Homo sapiens: one gene and its partners. The protein of the gene in region 2 interacts with the protein of the main gene of each other region in a pairwise test. Each region holds a gene or a part of one and is shown on either strand. Other genes may lie near its edges. The genes, in order: UBA3, IMPA2 and SLC44A3.

Evidence for each region.
Region 1: the proteins of IMPA2 (region 2) and UBA3 interact in binary tests that used the Homo sapiens proteins (3 or more experiments, as listed by UniProt).
Region 3: the proteins of IMPA2 (region 2) and SLC44A3 interact in binary tests that used the Homo sapiens proteins (3 or more experiments, as listed by UniProt).

The regions. Positions count from the first base shown.
Region 1 is NC_000003.12:69,063,293-69,070,402, reverse strand, and holds part of UBA3 (NEDD8-activating enzyme E1 catalytic subunit), read left to right. Parts: intron 1-2,394; coding exon 2,395-2,475; intron 2,476-6,291; coding exon 6,292-6,335; intron 6,336-6,899; coding exon 6,900-6,964; intron 6,965-7,110. UniProt on the Homo sapiens protein: Catalytic subunit of the dimeric UBA3-NAE1 E1 enzyme. E1 activates NEDD8 by first adenylating its C-terminal glycine residue with ATP, thereafter linking this residue to the side chain of the catalytic cysteine, yielding a NEDD8-UBA3 thioester and free AMP.
Region 2 is NC_000018.10:11,984,494-11,991,603, forward strand, and holds part of IMPA2 (inositol monophosphatase 2), read left to right. Parts: intron 1-7,110. UniProt on the Homo sapiens protein: Phosphatase that can use myo-inositol monophosphates, myo-inositol 1,4-diphosphate, scyllo-inositol-1,4-diphosphate, glucose-1-phosphate, beta-glycerophosphate and 2'-AMP as substrates in vitro.
Region 3 is NC_000001.11:94,837,280-94,844,389, reverse strand, and holds part of SLC44A3 (choline transporter-like protein 3), read right to left. Parts: intron 6,680-7,110; coding exon 6,519-6,679; intron 4,443-6,518; coding exon 4,353-4,442; intron 2,391-4,352; coding exon 2,266-2,390; intron 1-2,265.

The DNA of each region.
Region 1 (7,110 bases), on a different chromosome or scaffold from region 2:
GTTTTTGGATAGGCATAAAACCTCTACATTATCTTTGTGGAAGATCTTAATGGGACTGAAGTATGGATTAAAATAAGTTAATGAAGTGTTGTAATTGCAGTGTGACCCTTAATGTTTAACTTTTAAGCTTTATTTTTTGTTTATTTTTTAACCTTTGAAATTTCCCTTCTCTATAGCAAAGTTTGTGGGCTCTGTCCAGCTTGTCAAATTTTGAGTTGTGAATTCTCTGAAAAAGATACCACTGAATTGATTTGTTATTGATACAGGCCATACCCTTTAATTTGTGGCTAAAATGGTTGAAGATGGTAATAACGATATGTAGCAAGTACTTCTAAACTATCCATATTATTCCATTTAATCTCAGCAACCTCAGGGTAGGTTCTTGTGTTCAAGGTTAAATAATTTGGGCAGAGTGTCCTGCAAGGATGATGTGTGTGAAAGGCCATTTTATTGAGGTGGAGCAATCTGATTGTTTCATCCTGGAATGGTAAATTAACAAACAGTTCCCAGAAACCATCTAGGAGTTCTTTTGTTTGGGCCGTGCCATAAAAGCACATAGAATATATTACTTAAAATAATCTTAGAAGTCTACTTTATCCCTTTTACAAACCAAAAGAGCTTTCTGTGTGTGGAGCCATTGAATGCAATACTGAAATTAAGTTCTTTGATTTATAACAGGGCCTTTTTTATGTAAGTTAGTACAAAGTGAAGATAAAACATTTACCAAAAGTTTTGAATCAAAAAAGAACAGTGCTTTATTGGAGAGAAAAAAAATTGGCCTGGCATGGTGGCTCATGCCTGTAATCACAGCACATTGGGAGGCTAAGGTGGGCGGATCACTTGAGGTCAGAAGTTCGAGACCAGCCCGGCCAACACGGTGAAACCCTGTGTCTACTAAAAATACAAAAATTAGCCAGGCGTAGTGACTCATGCCCGTAGTCCCAGCACTCTGGAGGCTGAGACAGGAGAATTGTTTGAATCTGGGAGGCAGAGGTTATAGTGAGCCGAGATTGTGCCACTGCACTCCAGCGTGGGTGACAGAGCGAGACTCTGTCTCAAACAAACAAAAAAAAAGAAAAGAAAAATTGACATGCTAAAGTGTTTTTCTTTGAAATTTCAGATTTTTTTCTAATAAGCACACGATTTATTATTTTCATTTATTTTAAAAGTATTTACTGTGTGCTAGGTAGGAAGGAATATGAAGAGAGTAAGAACATGGTCACTTTCATCCAAATAATAGTCTAGTGGGTATGATAGACGTGTATGTAGCAAATATGTTACGAAAAAAGTAATAATGTTCTTATTATATACATGGAGTGATTTCTCTGAGGAGAATATGGAAATATTAGGAAAGAAAATACCATTTGTATAGAACTTAGAGGAGGAAATTCATATCCTTTCCTATCTATATGTGTGGTTATTGTTTTAAGAGTGACCTTTTGAGGCCTTATATATTCAGCTTCTGTGATGTAATAGTAACATTTGCAATTTTAGCTGACACTTTTGGTATTATTCTTTCTTTAAAAACTTGGTGCCGGGCATGGTGGCTCATGCCTGTAATCCCAGCATTTTGGGAGGCTGAGGCGGGCAGATCACCTGAGGTCAGGAGTTCGAGACCAGCCTGACCAACATGGCAAAACTAAAAATACAAAAACTAGCTGGTTGTGGTGGCAGGCACCTGTAATCTCACCTCCCTAGAGACTGAGGCATGAGAATTGCTTGAACCTGGGAGGCGGAGGTTGCAGTGAGCCGAGATCGCACCACTGCACTCCAGCCTGGGTGACAGAGTGAGTGAGACTCCGTCTCAAAAAGAAAAAAGAAAAAAACGTGGTTACAGCCTCTTTTTTTTTTTTTTTTCCATTTTATATACGGTCCAGTGAAATTTTTTTTTTCTTTTTTTTTCTTTTTCATGCAGCTTCTTAGGGGACACAAAATTTGCTGCTTAATCAGCACACACAGGAAGAAGGGGTTAAATGAAGGTTCTTGCATCCCAAGGATGAATCTTATTGTGTATATTTCAGCCAAGACCTGTGGAGTAACACCATAAGGTTCTGAGCTCTAAGAGTGGGATAATTTTTTACAGTGGAAAGTGGCCAGGAATCATAGCATTATTATGCTTTATCTGGGAGGAAGAACACTGTTCAGATTTTCTCTTAATTAAAGCAATACTTAATTAGACTTATGTTAATTTGGACCATTAGCAAGGGTTGACATTTAAGGTTAAATGACCGTTTACCAAAAGTTATTACTGAAATCAAAATACTTAGGCAAAAATATTCCTTCTAAATTTCCTATAAGTAAACTTACTGTGAATTTACTTTTATGTTTGAAAATAAGTTATGTAGATCATATAGATTTATAATATGAATTATAATTTAAATATTTTTCCTGTAGGCCTAAAGATATTGGAAGACCTAAGGCTGAAGTTGCTGCAGAATTTCTAAATGACAGAGTTCCTAATTGCAATGTAGTTCCGTATCCTTTTGACAAAAAGAAAATTACTTAATTTTTAAAAGCTTTTTTCCTTTATTATAAGAGATATTTAACAGAGAATACAGATAAGCAAGAGGGAAAAAAAGTCAGCAGTAGTAACTTTATTACTGAGATAACTGCTGGTAACATTTTGCTATCTATTCTTCCAGTCTTTTCTGTATGGTTATATAAATATTTTTTGGGCCCTGATTTTTAACTTAAGTTTATAAAGCCTGTTTCATCATCTACTTTATTTTGCATTATTGCCCTTAATTTCAGTATCAATTACATATCTCCTTTACTAGAGTGTAAATTCCTAGGCTGGATCCAATTAATCTTTGTTTCTTTATAGTAGCAGACAGAGTAGACAGTCAATATAGTATTAGCCAAATGGAAGGTACATCACAGTAAATTTATTTTTACAAGAAATATGTTTTTAAAAAGGAGTATTTACACTGTAGTTTGAATTTAGATCTGGAGAACTTTTGGCATTTTATAGAAAGTCAGAAGATGTGATTTCTATGTAGAAAGTCCCACAGAATACAAAATCAACATACCGGTGAACTTGTGAAAGTTAATGTAAAATACAATGCCATTTACAACTGCTTAGAAAGAAAAATAAATACTTAGATGTAAACTACAAGATAAGTAAGAGATTTATATAGTGAAAAACTACAAAATGCTGATGAAAGAAACCAAAGAAAATCTAAATAAATGGAGAGATAGTCCATCTTCAAAGATTGGAAGATTAAATATAGTAAAGATGTCATTTCTCCCTAAATTTGTATACATATATACCATAGTTTCTATTAAAATCCCAGCAAAATTGTCGATATAGACGATCTTCTAAAATTTTATATAGAAAAGCAAAGGAATACCTACTACAAATCTGAAAAAGAAAGTGGGAGGAATCACTATCCAAATTCTAGACTTATATAGCTATAGTAATCCAGACTCAGTGGCGTTACCAGAGGGATATATAGATGACTAGAACAGAATAGGGAAGCCAGAAATAGCCCCATATAAGTATGGCCAATTTGTTTTTGATAAAGGTGCAAAACAGTTCCAATGGAAGAAGCATAGTCTTCAACAAATCGTACTGGAGCAATTTCATATCCATAGTTAAAAGATGAATTTTGACCTAAACATACAAAATTAACTCAAAATGGATTATAGGTGTAAATATAAAATATAAAATGAGCCAGGCGTGGTGGCTCATGCCTGTAATCCCAGCACTTTGGGAGGCCGAGGTGGGTGGATCACTTGAGGTCAGGAGTTCGAGACCAGCCTGGCCAACATGGTGAAACCCCGTCTCTACTAAGAATACAAAAATTAGCCGGGCACAGTGGCTCCCAGCTACTCAGGAGGCTGAGGTGGGAGAATCGCTTGACCCTAGGAGGCTGAGGTTGCAGTGAGCTGAAATTGCGCTACTGCACCCCAGCCTGGGCGACAGAGCAAGGCTCCATCTCAAAAAAACAAAAAAAAACACAAAAAACCATAAAACGATAGAACTTTAGGGTTTGGTGGAGAGTGCTTAGGCCACGTCAAAAGCAAGACCTGTAAAAGGTGGGGTATGGTGGTGCAGATCACTGAGGAAGCAGTGAGCTTTTATCATACCACTACAGAGTCCTGGCTGCTTGGGAGGCTAAGGTGGGAGGATTGCTTGAGACTAGGAGTTTGAAGCTATAGTAGGCTGTGGTCATACTGTGAATAGCCACTGCATTCCAGCCTGGGCAATGTAGTGAGACATCATCTCTAAAAAATTAAAATAATTTTTTGTAAAAGCATGAGCCATAAAAGGAAAAAATTGATACACTGAACTTCATCAAAATTAAAAACTTGCTGTGTGAAAGACCCTCTTAAACGGATGAAGAAAAGCCACAGACTGGAGAAAATACTTGTAAAGCATCTGATGGAGGACTCATATCTAGAGTATATAATGAACTCTAAAAACTCAACAGTAAAACAAAAAAAAATTCAATTAGAAAATAGACAAAAGATAGGAAGAGATATTTTACTAAAAAGGATGACGAAAAGCACATGAAAAGATGTTTCACATCAAACTAAGACCACCATGAGCGATACTGTTACACAACTATTAGACTAAAAAAAAAAAGCCAGTCTCAAAAGGTCATATACTGCATGATTCTGTTTATATAATACTCTTGAAATTACAGAATTATAGAGATGGCTGGGTGTGGTGGTTCAGGCCTGTAATTCCAGCACTTTGGGAGGCTGAGGCGGGAAGATCACTTGAGCCTGGTTGTTTGAGAACAGCCTAGGCAACAAATGAGACCCTATTTCTGTAAAAACTAGAAAAATTACCCGGGCATGGTGGCACATGCCTGTAGTCCCAGCTATGTGGGAGGCTGAGGCAGGAAGATCAGTTAAGCCCAGGATGTGGAGGCTGCAGAGAGATCTTTATTGTGGTCGAATAGTTATGTGTGTTGCCTGGGGTGGTGGTTACACAAATCTATGTGTGTTTAAATGACAGAATTATAAACACACATTGTACCAATGTTCTGTTCATGGTTTTGGTACTGTACTATAGTAAGATGTAACTGGGAAAGGTGCATGGTACCTACCTATACTATCTGTGCAACTTACTGCGAATCTATATTATTTCAAAATAAAGAGCTTAAAAATGCAAATACAGGCCCCTGTAGGGAAAAAGGAAGAGTTGGTGGGGGTGGGTTGGTTAGTGGGGGGCACTCAGTTTGTCTATCCCCATTATGTGGGTCTGGGAAACTTTGGGTATTTTCTAGAAATCCAGATTAGATTTCTTAGTCTGGCTCTTGGTTCCCTGATTGCCATTCCTCCACTGTTTGCTTTGTTTCTTTTTTGACCTCTTTCTAGCTGTAGCTTCGTTCTCCTGCTTGCCTAGCATTCAAAGGGAATAGAGGTCTGAATGACTGAGGGCTAGAATTGAAATTATTGTTCATAGCTTTATTTGTAGGCAAGAATTAAAAATCTAGAGGAAGCATGTATTGTCCCTTTTTTCTATGTATTGTCCCTTTTTTCTCTGTATTGCTTTTAAAAAATTTATAGTGGACTATTTATCTTAACTTTAGAGAAGTTGCATAATTTATAAATTATTAAACAATTGCTCCATTCATTAGAAAAATTAAAACAAGTTTTTGCACACATGTGCTATTAAAACATTAAGTGCTATATTGACTCACCCACAATCAGTTTTGAATGGAGTTTCCTTTTTAGCCTCCAGGGATGGGAAGACTGGTAATAGGATTTGGTAGGGTAACTTGAAAACTGAGTTAAATGAGAAAGGTAGAAAAAATTCGTACTTTTTCTCCTCCCCACAAAAAATAAAAACAGTAAAATCTTTACCAACTGAAAAAGCTGTTGAAATTTTCTGTATGTTAAAAAAATGAGCTTTGCAGTAACTCTTAAAATCACCTAGCAAAATAGGAACTATAATGTGCATCTTTCCTTCACTAAAACATTTATTGCATCTCTTCTTGATGCTGATGATTGAGGACACACATTCTGCTTTCCTGGGGCTTATGGTTTTATATAAAAACCAAAGCAAAGTAGAAAGTATACCTCCTACCAAGGGCATAAATATAATGATATAGGGGTTCAGGAATGAGAAAAAGTAAGTAGTTAGGGGAGGAATGGCAGAAAAGTTTTGTCAGAAAGGAGAGTTGTGTTCATTTAGTCAGATTCCTTGAATTCCACTGATGTGAACATTGATTACTTATTTCTTGTTGTAAATATATGCAGAGTGTGTTCCTTATGGCATTGTCAAATTCATTTTAGAAATTAAAACTTAGCTGCTTAAGTTCCTTTACTTGTATTCAGACATTTCAACAAGATTCAAGATTTTAACGACACTTTCTATCGACGTAAGTTTTTTACTTGAAATTAATGCTCACTAGATTCTTAGAATTTTTTAGTTGGTAGCTATTCAAATATTGCTAGCTATTTCAAGGCTATTTCTTCACTTGCTTTCCTCTCTCACTGTTGGCTTTTCAGTAATGTTGCTGATAGACTGAAAAGAGAATGCTAGTTTTAGCTGACATGACCAGCTACAAGTTTCTATGCTTACCTGAATGAGAGTTCACTCAAGGAATTGGAGCTCTGAGAACGTATGTGGGATTACAGTAAAAAGTGCTTGTGGTTTTTTTGTTGGTTTCTTAGAACGTGCAAATTGTTTTCTGCAAGTGCTTTTTTTTTTTAATTAGTAAACTTTATTTTTTAGGGCAGTTTTATGTTCACAACAAAATTGAACAGAAAATTTTTGAAAACTTGGGTTCTCATAGAGCTTCCTGTTCCCACAAACACACTACCTTCCTAATCAACATCTTGCACCAGAGTGGTACATTTGTTGCAGTTGATGAATCTACATTGAAAGATCATCATGCAACTACATATTTAAAAACTAAAGTTGCTTTTTTTTTTTTTTGTAGAATTTCATATTATTGTATGTGGACTGGACTCTATCATCGCCAGAAGATGGATAAATGGCATGCTGGTAAAGACTTTAGTATTGTTATAGTTCTCTGAAGTTCTTGCTGCTGTGCTTCACATCCCCAAAATTAGAATTGATATATTTTTGAAAAATCAGAGTTTAATTTTTAATTAAGTATATTTACTTCATTGTTTATTGCCAGTCATTGG
Region 2 (7,110 bases):
CCAGCTTCTGTTGGGCCAGAAACTTAGACAATTTAGGGGGCCCTCTTTAAGAAAATACAAACTTTGCCAGATGTGGTGGCTGAAGCCTGTAATCCCAGCACTTTGGGAGGCTGAGGCTTGTGGATCACCTGAGGTCGGGAATTTGAGACCAATATAGTGAAACCCCATCTCTACTAAAAATACAAAAACTGTGGCCGGGCGCGGTGGCTCACGCCTGTAATCCCAGCACTTTGGGAGGCCGAGGTGGGCAGATCACAAGGTCAGGAGATCAAGACCATCCTGGCTAACACGGTGAAACCTCGTCTCTACTAAAAAATACAAAAAATTAGCCGGGCGTGGTGGCGGGCGCCTGTAGTCCCAGCTACTCAGGAGGCTGAGGCAGGAGAATGGCGTGAACCCGGGAGGCGGAGTTTGCAGTGAGTAGAGATCGTGCCACTGCACTCCAGCCTGAGCGACAGAGCAAGACTCCGTCTCAAAAAAAAAAAAAAAAAACAACAAAAATCAGTCGAGCGTGGTGGCACACGCCTGTAATCCCTGCTACTAAGGAGGCTGAGGCAGGAGAATCCCTAGAACCTGGGATGTGGAGGATGCAGTGGTGAGCCTAGGTTGCACCACTGCACTCCAGCCTGGGTGATAAGAGCGAAACTCTGTCTCAAAAAAAAAAAAAAAAAAAAAAGAGAAAATACAAAATTACAAATTCAAACTTAGATATAAAAGTTATTTAGAATAAGAACAATCACATCTATAAATTTCTAAGGTGCTAAGAAATACTGCAAATATCACGAAATACACAAAAATAACAATTCTTTCACTGCTTCTCATACTTCCGTAATACTTTTTGCCCTTTTTCTGGTTTCATACTGTTTGCATCTTTTGAATGATAATGATTTTGTAATACTTTATATGGGGAGAATAGAAAGATAAATTCAGCATTTCCTGTTGCTTGGCTTATTGAAATTTATTACTGATAATTTAGAAAATTTAGGCTTCAAACTTGTTACTGGTAACAATTGGCTTATAAATTTTTAGGATGTCATCAAATTGAGAACCTTCTATGAATTTTTTTATACATTAGTTGTAAGTGAGTCTGTTTTTCACAGACTTGCTCCTGGCTCTGTGCAGTTGAAATCTGGTTTATTTTTGTGATCCACACATTTTCAGTGCCAGTGTCTGTGTCCACCTCATGTGCTCCTCTGGTCCTGTATGTTTTTGTCACCATGCCAGGTGGGTCGGCGTGATGGACAGGGGAGTATGCCTGGAAGCCCTTTCTACACTGGATGGCTCTCAGTAACTTACAGAGAAATGTGACTGCAAACCCTATTGAAGCAAAGTTAGTTCATCTACTCAGCTTATCTTTAGCCCACACTGGCTGTATCCACGCCAGTGCCACCTGATGCAAAGTCTGATGGAAGGACAGTTTAAGTGGAAAGGCACAAGGTTAGATCTACAGTCAAAACAGCTGACTTTTGCCCATTACAAAAGGGGTTTGTGTACGGCTTTGTGAACACTTTGTTAGGGTCCCTTGCAGGCAAGTGGGGGCCTTGATGCTTAAGCGTCATTAGCTTCACAGGAAATTCATCTCTGTTTACTTGTAACAAAATCTCAGGACAAAGCAGAAAAAGAAAAACCCAGCACTGACCTCAGGACCGCAGACTTCCCCCTTCTCTAGTTGGCCTTGCACACCCTTGCAGGTTATGCTTCCCGAGGCCCGGCCTTGCGAAGTGAGCCTGTCGTCCCCTTGTCCGGCCAGATCTGGTCGCTCTGCTTGGTGTTTGCAAAACACATGTTGTATTTTCTTGCCTTTCTTCTGGCCTATGGAGTATGCAAACCATTGCCTGTCTCCAGAGCCCGGCTCCTGAGCCCCTTCCTTCATGGACCGCTTCTCAGGTGGCCTTCCCTGTCTTTCCAGTGCCCCACCTGGTCCTGCTGAGCTGGCACTCCTCATGACTTTATTTATCCTTGCCTGGTGGTGTGCCCTCCACACAGTGGGTCCTTGGAATATGAATACTCTTTTGTCTACCTCTGGCTCTTCAGGGCAGAAGGCACATTGGTGGGCTCTGGACCCGTGTCCCCACTTGTCCATCTGGCTTTACCAACACAGTATTGTTTTGATTTGTGATTTTCCTTTTTGCTGGTTATTCACACCGGGAATTTAATGAGTGACGTAACACTGAAAGCACATGATGAAGAACAGCAGCACCTGGCCCACACTCCTCACCCCTTGTCCTGTGTCCGGAGTCCCTGTTCTCAATTTTCTGAGAGTTACACCCATTTCTAAGTAATATGCTTCTGTCGTGCTTTCTTGAGTTGTTCATTGTTGACAGAATTATTCTGTGTTACGCCGTGTAGTGGCCCTGCCCGTGTGGTTCTGTGGGTGTCCATGTCCATGTTCGGATGGCCATGCAGATGTAACTCATGGTTCAGCCCGGCAGTGTATTCCTTTCTTTCTAATGCAACTTGTATTTTCGTTAAAGAATGTTTTGTTTTGTTTTGCTTTGCATTTGTCTAGTTTTCTGTATACCTATTGTGAGCCATCCATCTTCCCAGCAGGATTTTTCATGATCTCCTTGGTGTGGTCACACTCCTTGGGTCGCTGCTGTGGAGCAGTGCTTCTCCAGCTTTGGCTGTGTTGGAAGCCCAAGAGGGCTTATTAAGGCAAATGGGGTCCCACCGCAGGGTTTCTCATTCACTAGGTCTGGAGTGGGCACCAGAATACGCATTTCTAACATTCCCAGCTGACATAGATGCTGCTAGTCTGGAGTGGCACAATGGGAACTTCCGCTGCATGGTATTTTATTATGTGAGTACATCACTATTCATTCAACTGTTTTATTTATTATTTATTTTTATTTTTTGAGACGACGTCTAGCTCTCTCGCTCAGGCTGGAGTGCAGTGGCGTGATCTTGGCTCATCAAAACCTCTGCCTCCCGAGTTCAAGTGATTCTCCTGCCTCAGCCTCCTGAACAGCTGGGTCTACAGGCATGCGCCACCATGCCTGGCTAATTTTTGTATTTTTAGTAGAGACGGCGTTTCACCATATTGGCCAGGCTGATCTAGAACTCCTGACCTCAAGTGGTCCACCCGCCTTGGCCTCCCAAAGTGCTGGGATTACAGGCACGAGCCACTGCGCCTGGCCTCATTCAACTCTTGAGCAAACTGGATAATGTCCAGTTTGAAGTTAATACGGGTAACGTTGCTGTGAACTTTCTTGCACATGTCTTTTGATTATGTGTGCATTTCTGTTGGGGATTTATTAATAGTAGGAGTAGAATCGCTGTGTCATTGGGAATGTAAATTCTGCCAAGTAGTTCTCTAAAGAGGATGTACCAAGTTACACTCCACCCTGCAGTGTGTGAGGGTTCCCTTTTCCCCACGTCTTCCACAACATGTGGTATGGTCTGTCTTTTATATTGTAGCCATTCTGATGGGCTTGAGTTGGTATTTTATTGTAGTTTTAATTTGCGTTTCTTAGATAATTAATGAAGTTAAATGCACATGTTTATTGGCTTTTTTTTTTTTTTTTTTTTTTGAGACACAGTCTTGCTCTGTCGCCCAGGCTGGAGTGCAGTGGTGCGATCTCAGCTCACTGCAACCTCCGCTTCCCGGGCTCAAGCAATTCTCCTGCCTCAGCCTCCCGAGTAGCTGGGATTACAGGCATGTGCCACCACGCCTGGCTAATTTTTGTATTTTTAGTAGAGATGGGGTTTCACCATGTTGGCCAGGCCAGTCTCAAACTCCTGACCTCATGTGATCCACCCACCTTGGCCTCCCAAAGTGCTGGGATTACAGGCGTGAGCCACTGTGCCCAGCTGTTTATTGGCTTCTTTGATATTATTTGCTTTTAAAATGATGGTAATAACACATTGATTATAAATTTATTCATCCAACAAAGAATCATTAACAACTCAGGAAAGGACTTTAGCCTTTTTACTCTGAATGTGAGGGGAGGTTTGGGGCAGAGTCTTGTGTGGGGCTTTATAGGACTCTATATAGGGGACCACCCTGGCTGCTGCATGAGGTCCTTTGTGGGACACTAGGGAGACCAGAATCAGGTATCTGATAGGAAGCCACGTGAGAAATGAGGGTGGATTTGACTGGGGTGCATGAAGAAGGTGGTGAAGAAGATTTACTTTGGAGGCTGAGATGACAGCCTCTGAGTTGGATGTGGGGTGTGAGAGAAAGAGAGGAGCCAAGGGTGACTTCAGGGGTTTAGGCCTGAAAAGCTGGTTGAATGGATTTGCCACTTTCCGAGATGGCAAAACTGCAGGAGGAACAGGTTTGGAGCTGAGAGTCGAGTGTTCTCTTCTGTGCAGGTTAAGCTCGAATTGCCAGTAGATTTCTTATTTTATTTTTTTGAGACAGGGTATCGCTTTGTTTCCCTGGCTGGAGTGCAGTGGTGCAATCACAGCTTCTACCTCCTGGGCTCAAGTGATTCTCCCACCTCAGCCTCCTGAGTAGCTGGGACTACAGGCATGTGTCACCATGCCTGGATAATATGTATTTTTTAATTTTTTGTACAGACGGGGTTTCACTAAGTGGAGATGTTGGATTTGCACCCAAGCTGACGGCAGAGATGCAGTGTGGAAGTCATATTCCTGGAGATGGTATTTAGGGCCATGTCCCGGACAGGAGGAGAGCAGGCTTGGCCACTGATGGGCTTTGCCGTCGGATGAGCTCAGGTCAGGCTCCCATTTTCCTCCTTGGGAGCCTCACAAATGCCAGTTTGTGGAGGTCATTTCTGAAGTGGTTCATTTCTCCAGAAAAGGCTTCCCTGCTCTTCCTGCCTGGGCTGAGCGCACCTGTCGCTGGAGGAAGAGGAGGCAGGAGGGGGAGAGGAGGCGGTGGTGATGGCCTCCAGCTCCTGCCTCGCCTGGTCCACACCTGCAGTGTTTGCTTAGCTCTGCAGGGTGGGGTCAGCCTACGTGAGAAATTCGAAAACTCAACAACATTTCAAACATCAGCAGAGACAGAATTCCTGTGAGACAGCAGCTGGCAGGCACAGAGTAGCAGCTGTCCCTTTGGTGGGGTGGGGGTCGGTACATGGTCTCCAAGGGTCCGAGGCCCACTGCTCCTGACCCTATCTGAGAGGTCCCTATCATTTCCTACCCATTTTGCTAACAAAAGCTGTCTCAGAAGAAGGGGGAGGGCAGAAGGCACTGCCCTTGCCTCTGGGCAGCCTCATCCCAGCCCTTGGCACTCCAGGGTGCCAGTGAGGTCCCACCTGTGCCCCCTTAAGGAGAGGCTGGTAGATGGCTCATCCCCACGGGGAGAGTGAGTCCTGGACTCTGTGGCCCTGAGCTTGTCACTTGCTCACCCCAATGAAGCGCTGCCCAGGGGAGATTACTGTCTTTGGAGTTTGGGGCAGGAGGGTGGGTGAAATCACTCAGCCAGAGGATGGAGAGGCTGCTAGTGAGATACAGGCCCCCTCCTCGAGCTTTAGGGGTGGAGGAAGGCAGGAGCTCAAAGGCATGGGGAGCTGAGACATTGAGAAGGAGAGGGGAGTTCCGGAGTCTAGGCCCCTCCCTCTCTCCTGGCCTCCTCCTGGGCCCAGTGGAGACAGGAGCCTGGAGCCTGGTTTGCGTCTTCTCTCTTCTGTGGGAGTGAGGGAAGGCTTTGGTCTCTAGGCTGAGCCAGTCTCAGGATCCTGTGTCCGTTGTCCCAGCTCTGCCCTAGCCTGCCATGAGCGCTGCAGGAGGCCTTCTGCAGGCTGGCGCCCTGCCCCTGGGCTCACCTTTCATGTGAGAGATGGAGGAGGTGCAGACCTGGCCAGTCACTGCAGTGTGCAGGCGGACTGGGAGGCCATCCCAGCACCTGGGATGTGGACAGCTTCCTGGAAGAAGTCACAGCTGAGTGTGTCTTTAGAAAAAAAGCAGGAGTCAGCTAGGAAGGTTAGGTGATGGGCTTGGGGAGGGGAGAGAGAAGAGGAGGGGTCGGGGCCAATAGAGAAGATGAAAGCAGAAGGGGCAAAAGAGAACATAGCACCAAGGACCTCCAAGAAATGCACTTTGGCTAAAGTTTGAGGTGGGAGAGGTCAGGACTTGGGGGCCCCGTGTGGAGGGCAGAATTGCAGGTGGGTGTCCTGCTCGAACTGATGGGGTGTGGCCCTTGGGGGCTGTGAGTTGGGGTGGACTTGATGAGTCGTACATTGAAGGAGACATAGGAATAAAGGACTTCTGGGTTTCTGGCTCATGCAGCTGGCTGGCTCTCATTGCTTTTGAGAGAAATGTGAGCTGGAGAGGGATTAGGAAGTAATCAATTGTGACGGCTCCAGCCGTGGGGTCGGCTCTGTTTAGCGATGGTGGACTTGGACTGTGGTGCTGGGAACCCCTTCCCTATACCTTACAGCTGCAGGGCCTTGGGCAACTTTCTCCATTTCTTTTTGCCTCCGTTTCCTCATCTTTAACGTGGAGAATAATTTTTGCTGTCCTCAGAGTTACTGTGTGGAATAAATGTACATGTGAACTGCTCAGAACAGCACGGGGCAGAAGAAGCGCTCTGTAAGCTTGAGCTCAGGCCGTGGAGCTGGGCAGGGTGTGAGGTGGAGGCCATCTCCAGGAAGCTCAGCTGCTGAAGGCAGGTCCGAGGGCTTGCAAACACCCACTTTCAAGGAATAGTGGGAGGGAGATGAGCCGCAGAATGGTGGGGAGATAGGAGGAAAGCCACGAGGGGAGGCAGGGGCCACAGGCCACGGGCCCTGGAACACAGGGAATGCAGCTGGGATGTGGGTGACGGGTGGCTGCTGGCATTGGTATGGAAGGTGCCAGTGCCTTGTCAGGGCGGAGGGCGACTAGAGATCAAGGTGAGGGGAAAAATAGCCACGAGACTAAAGGAGGCGTTGAGGATTCGAGAGCCTGAGGTGGGCTGGCCTGGGAGCCACGTCTGCTTGGACCAGCTCCTCCTCTTCCTCCCAGGGTTGAGGTTGTACAGAGATTTGTGACGCATCAACAGCTGTGAACTGCTGACCACATGTGCCACATGACACCATGTGATAGGCGTGTTATTACCTGGGTACCCGATGAACTGTTAGGTTTTATTGATTGTCACACGTATCAGGTTCTTCAGAGAAACAGGACCGGCAGGAGGTGGGTGGGTCCAGTCTGCAGGGTGGG
Region 3 (7,110 bases), on a different chromosome or scaffold from region 2:
TCCAGCCTCACTTTCCTCTAGGTGCTGGAAGAATAAGCACATCAGTTATTGACAAGGCCGTGGATGTCCTACAGTATGTCAGACTCAATTTATCCTGAATCAAATTCATTATCTTCATACTAGAACCTCCTCTTCCCCCTGTATTCTTTACCTCCAGTGGCCCTAATTTTTCTAGACTTTCCAAGAGTAAGTTAGGTTCCCCTCTTGTGTGCTCCCATTTTATTCCACACTTACCCTATTGTACTATTTAACATATTCTATAAATGTTTTCTCGTCTGAATTTCCCATTAGATTAGGCTCCTAGAGAGCAGGGCCATTCTTATGGTCAAGGACTGGCAAAGTGCCCAGTACAGTCTCAATCACCTCTGGTTCAGTTTCCTCAATACCGCTCATGCCTTCCTTTCCTCTCTGTTTCCACCGCTGATGCCACAGCTCAAGTCTCAGCCTCTTTCTTCTAGACCCCAATAACCTCATTAGCTTTCTGCATTTAACCTCCCTGACCACCCCCCCCACCCCGCCCCACCTCAGTCCCTCCTCCACTCCACAGCTAAGGGGACCTTTGTAAAGCGCAAACACAAAGATGGTGTTTCTCGGCTCAAAATCCATCTACGGCACCCCAGTGCCTCTGGAGAAAGATCAAACCTATCATCATTGCAGATCAGGACCTTTGTGACATGACCCTCCCTGCACCTGCATCTCAGGCTTCCATCAAGGGAACTTCCTGCAAGTCACACCCCTGCCCATGTGACCTCATGCATGCTGTGCCCTTGGCCTGAGATGCTCTTTCTCTTCCAGCTTTGCTGGAGCGTTTCTGCCGTCAACAGTCAAGTGGAGGAAAGACAGTGACAGTGGATAAACTGCAGAAGCTGCTCCAGGATCTGGGAGCACAGCCTCCTGACCATGCAGGGAGAGGTGTCAGGAGAGGCCCCGCAAGACACCCAGAGGAGACCCTTCAGTTGTAAAGGCTGAGGAGGAACTTCCATCTGGGCTTTTCTGAGGATGAGTGAACTAGCTCATCTAGCAACCGGGAATTGGTAAGAACTCACAACAAATGAACGGGAGGTGAGCTGGGACTCAATTCTGCCTTATAGAGTAGCCCCTGTGCAGAACTCATGGACCCAGGTGAAAACAGCCTCCCTGCTCACATGGCCTCCCCTCTCCCTAACCTTGCCCCGGCCCTGAAATCTGGGTGGCATAAATGGTGCAGTGTACAAACAAAAAGGGAGCCCTGTGGAGGGTAGACGGAGGAACTGGACCCTCCCCAGCCCCCAGCCCTGCTCCTCTTCCCCTATGCCCAGCCTGGGGAATGGGGAAGCCCTTTCATCTCCAGCCTCCTCTGCAGACTCTGTTGAGTGTCTGGTCTGGTCCCTGCCTGAGGCGAGAGCAACCAGGTGCTTTACTTTATTGTACCCTTACTCCCTGGCACATTTTATGTGAAGATCACAAACCCAAAACCTCACCGTGGAAAGGAGAAAATGTGAAAACTACCAAATATGAGAATAGAAGGATTTCCTATGAGAGAATTTTGTTGGTGTGAGAATCTGCATTTGCTGCAAGATTCAATGGGCTTGTGGAAACCCCTGGCTGCAGCTGCTCCACAGAACAGTCAGTAAGCAACACACCAGCAACGACGACTCTGGGGGACCTGAAGCCAGTGTGGGGTCCGCCCCAGGGCCTTGTGATTTGAGCCTTCCTAACGGCCCCTGGAGAGGGTCCTGAATGACATTTGGTTGCCAACCACCCACCACCAGTAACTAATACCTGCTCCCTCAATATTCTAAGTCAGCCTGTTTTCAGCTAGAGAGTTCACTGAGGAGGCAGCAAGTTCTCTGAACACCAAAATAACCCAGTGGCCAGCGGGTTTGGAAACAAAGGGCTCTGTGTGCTAGAGGGCAGCGGAAGCTGAGCATACACTGGCAAAGGGGAGCCGCACCTCACAAACAGGGAATGGGAACTGCCGTAAGCCTGCCTCCGCCCACCCACCATGCCCACCTTGTAGCCCCTTGGGGCTGAGAACAGTGCAACAGCAAGGATAACACAGTAGTCTCTGGGAGGTGGCAGAAATGACTTGGGAAGAACTAAAACCTTTTTTTCTTATTTTTGAAGAGTTTTGAATTATCCCTATACAGGTATCTCAAATCCAAAGAAGGCACATTCTAAATCAAAAGAAAAACAAATTATAGTTGTTTTTGGCTAGAATTCAATGATTTGGATTTCAGAGTCCTGGCTGGCTACCTGACCTACTGCTAGAAGAGCATTTCTTACCGTGATGCCTGTGGATACGATAGCAAACCCCAGCACGCACTTCATATTTTCCCTTTCTGTGTCCAATTCTATGCTGAGGTCGTTGGTATAGTCATAATACAGCCACCATAAAACACCGCAGACAACTAGAAAAGAGAACAGTAGCAGAGCTCAGGGCACACGCCATGAGGTAACCTTTCCCCAGCACACAGAATCACACAGGAAGTCCAGCCACTGCCCACCGGCCGCGTGGCACTGCTCTGGCAGTGGGTCCCAAATACCCGGACCCTACAAGCAACTGCTGCCCTCTGGAGAAGCTGGGCAGAGCCAGGGCAACCCATAGAGGACCCACAAGTTCTGGGATGATGCTTGTTTTGGGAGACCCAGGATGGTGACCCCAGAACACAGGCACCTAACCCACAGGTTGGGTCTGGATGCGAGCAGGAGGAAAACCCCATGGACAGGATGGTGAGAGGGACAATGCCAGAGCTCACTGTCTAAATGTTTTAAGCAAGCTCTGGTGGTGATAACTCCTGTGGAGCCTGGATATTGGCTGCTCACCCACAAAACCAGGAAAATTTACACGGCCTGTGGGAATCATGGAAGTCAGAAGCTCATTTGGAAGATGCCCTGACATTGCAAGTACTCCACATTTAGGTACGAAATACCACCTTATGCCATATCCACAGTAACTATAGGAAGGTTGGAGTGGACAGGAAGAAACAACCCTCAGAAGTCATTGTGCCTGTCCTCCGACACAGGGCTACAGGGCTCTAAGTTGCTGAGGGCAGAGCTGATGACTCAGGGGAAAGAAACATGACAATCACATCAGTTTTTAAAAATTAAAATATAGTCATCCACTGCATGATGACATTTTGATCAACAATGGACTGCATATATGATGGTGGTTCATGAGATTAATAATACTGTACTTTTCTGTGCTTAGATGTGTTTAGATACACAAATACTGACCATTCTGTTACAGCTGCCAACCGTATTCTGTACAGTAGCATGCTGTGCAGGTTCGTAGCCTAGGAGTAATAGGTTATACCATGTGCCTGGGTGTGTAGTAGGCTCTACCATCTAGGTTTGTGTAAGTGCACCCTGTGATGTTCACACAATGAGGAAATTGCTGAGTGATGCATTTCTCAGAACACATCCCTTCCTGTCATTAAGTGACACCTGATTGTACCCCACACCAGTTGGTAAATGGCTGCTGCCTTGAGCCTCCTGCGTGCCCTTGTCCCTCGGACCTCTTTCCCAACAACTGCTGGTGAGATCCACAATCCAGCAACCGGGAGGGAAATATGGGCACAGTACAGGGTCTCCAGGACTCTGCTTCCATGCAGGCCTGTGTGTCTTCTGGCTGGTCAGAACCTTTACATGACAACTGTGGGCACCCACGTGCCAATGGGTGAGGTGCGCATTCAGAAGAAATCCTTTAAAATGCTCCCAGTGGGTACTGGGATTCTCTTTTAACGTTATGGATACAGGATCACGGTATTGGAAAGCTCATCTCAGGGGCAGCATAGCACAGCAGAAGAAACTACAGATATGGCTGGACGTGGTGACTCATACCTGTAATCCCAGCACTTTGGGAGGCCAAGGTGGGCGGATCGCTTGAGCTCAGGAGTTGGAGACCAGACTGGGCAACATGGCAAAACCCCGTCTCTACAAAAAATACAAAAATTAGCTGGGTGTAGTGGCATGTGCCTGTAATTCCAGCTACCTGGGGGGCTGAGACAGGGGGATCGCTTGAGCCCAGGAGGTTGAGGCTATAGTGAGCTGCGTTCGCGCCATTGCACTCCAGCCTGGGCAACAAAGTGAGAGCCTGCCTCAAAAAAAAAAAAAAAAAAAAAAAAGGAAAAAGAAAAAGAAAAGAAAAGAAAGAAGAAAAAAAAGATTGGTCATTAACTTTGCACTGTCTGTGAGACATAGCAACTCCCATCGTCCTCCCTGAGGCCAAGTTTTCTCATTTGTAAAGTGACAGGGCTAGATACTCTTTAAGACTCCATGTAGCTTAAAAATGCCAACTTTTAAGTTCTGTACTTAATGTAAAGGCTTTTCATTTAATCGAAAAGAAATCAGTCAAGTAGAGAAATACTTACACAACAATCCCAAAATAACCAATGAAATGAAAATGTGAACCAGAAGGGTGGTGATGAATCTGAAGGTAAACATCATGGCCAAAGACAAGGCTGAAAAATTAAGCAAAACACATAAACCTCAATAGCAACAAAGGATAGGGGAGATGATGGTAGTACTGCGATGACAAAACCCTCCAGAACAGTGACGGCTGAGGATTGTATTCAATCTCTAAATATCTTGGGATATCTACTAAACACTAAATAAAAATAACAAGGTATACGTGGGGCAGTCTCTGATGCACCATTCAATCAAGTGTGGTAAGCCTGTCTCTGAAAGTCCTAGTATTCTTCTCAAAAATAAAAAAAATTTGGCCGGGCATGGTGCCTCACACCTATAATCCCAGCACTTTGGGAGGCCGAGGCGGGTGGATCACCTGAGGTCAGGAGTTCGAGAACAGCCTGGCCAACCTGGCAAAACCCCATCTCTACTAAAAATACAAAAATTAGCCAGGCATGGTGGCGGGCACCTGTAATCCCAGCTACTCGGGAGGCTGAGGTACAAGAATCGCTTGAACCCGGGTGGCAGAGGTTGGCAGTGAGCCAAGATCATGGCACTGTACTCCAGCCTGGGCAACAGAGCAAGACTCTGTCTCAATAAAAAAAAAGAAAGAAAGAAAAAAAATTTTATAGCAATATTATTCTCAAATGCCCAAATCTTTTTTTCTTACAAGTCCAAATGAACCATCTAAAATTATCATACTTAAATCTTTTGACTTCATACTGGGCTTATGTAAAGTTCTAACTTTACATGTTCTAAGGTACTCTTATTAAATATGAAAGATTAATAATGTCTTTAAAATGAAGAATTTAAGATCCTAACCATGAAATAAGCTGTATGTACTATTTTCGACATAGGAAATCAGGATTGCATCTAGATCAGAGTTATGTTTAGTAAGGTGGGTTTTGGGACCACACAGATCTGGGTTTGAGTCTTAGTTCTGCCACCTCTTCTCCTAGGTGTGCAACACTGGCCAAGTCCTAAACCTCTCTAAGCCTCAGTTTCATCTCCTATGAGTGGTACTGGGATTCTGATGAGGTTTTAATGAGTGAAGAATAAGTACAATGCCTGGCACATGGTAAGTGCTCAGTAAACGACAGCTGTTAATACCATTATGAATCTAATAAGCACATGACAATGTCCTTGCAGGGACATTAGGTCATTATATAAGATATCAGGAATAACCTGAGGTTTTTTTGTTATATATTGTAACCAAGCCAGTATTTGGGAGTCAAAGCATCTTGTTTGAGTCAATTGAAGTCATTTTCAGCCTAAGTAAGAAGTCTGAAAGTCATAATAGTGACTAGTTAAATATCCCCAAGCATTCAGGAATTAGGAACCTTTTAGTAATGAAATTGTGGAAAACTCAATTTGTTAACTGTTAGAAATATGTTAATGTCTGACCAAAGAGTTTCTCTCTACCAAGAGGTTTGTGGGCTGCCACTGGAAAGCGAGGAGACAATAGGCTCTTACCACTGTCTAAAGGGGCAGAGTGTATTCACCTGTTCAAAGAGAAAGTTGGCTCTTGATTTCAGCCAACTGAAACATAGAAAATGGGAACTCAAAAGATCAAGAGTGGGTAGCTGCTTCCAGAAATGCCCAGAGAAGGCTGAAGGCCTTGACCTGTCTACAACCCAAAGCAGGTATGTCCCTTAGAGGAGCAGGATACAGCAGGCCCTTGCAGTCTGACTCCATTTAACATGGATGCATACATGTCCTTGCCCTGCTCACCAAGCAGCTTTCTGATCTGCTTTCTGATCCACCTACAGGTGGAGGCATGTTTGGCCAGAAGACATGGTTTCTGGTCACCCTGACAGTTGTATTTTTCATGTCCCATCCACAAATTGGCAATCTGCTTTATATACCCATCCCCAGTGAGGAGCAGACACTAGAACATAGTCAGTATATCAAGGCAACCCTACCCACTGAGGCTTTCTGCCAGAGGGCCAGCCGCTCCTCTATTCGTATTGCCCCCATCCCACTTAAATCTGAAACACTGAAAATATCTATTAAAAATACAGAGTTTTATATTTAAAACAAGAGGCTAATTTTCATTGTACAACATATAAAATGCTAGGAACTTTGGCATTCCATAAACAACTATTAAAATTAACTTAACTGAGAATTACCTAATGCGAGGATACACAGGCCAAGGATTGTATCTCTTCCCGACATGATTCCACTTAGAATTCGGTGGAGGGTGTCAACATCATTTATCAAAACAGATGCAAATAGGGAGTAGCACTCAGGTGTTTGAGGGACACATCGGTTAAATAAGGGAAATGACTTGCTAAAAATAGAGAAAAAAAGATGGCAAAAATGTTTATTTAACATTTATCTTTAAAAGATGTTTATTTAACATTCTCAATAACCAAAAAAGCTTAAGAACTACAGTAATAGAGAGGCGTCTAGCATGCCATTTGCAGAGCACACCTTAGAAAGCCAGGCAAGTATGCTCTGCTACATCGATTAGCTGATGTTCTGAATAGGAAGTTGATTATGGGAACCCACAGAAACCAAAAACCTAAACTTGGGGAGCAACATTTTTAAAAATAAAAATTGCACATATTTAAGGTATACAATGTGATATTTTGATATATATAAACTTCATGAAATGATTGCTACAGTTAAGCTAATGAATGTATCCATAAATTCCCATAGTTATCATATTTTGAGAAAACTGAAGATCTGTTGTATCAAATTTCAAATATACAATACAGT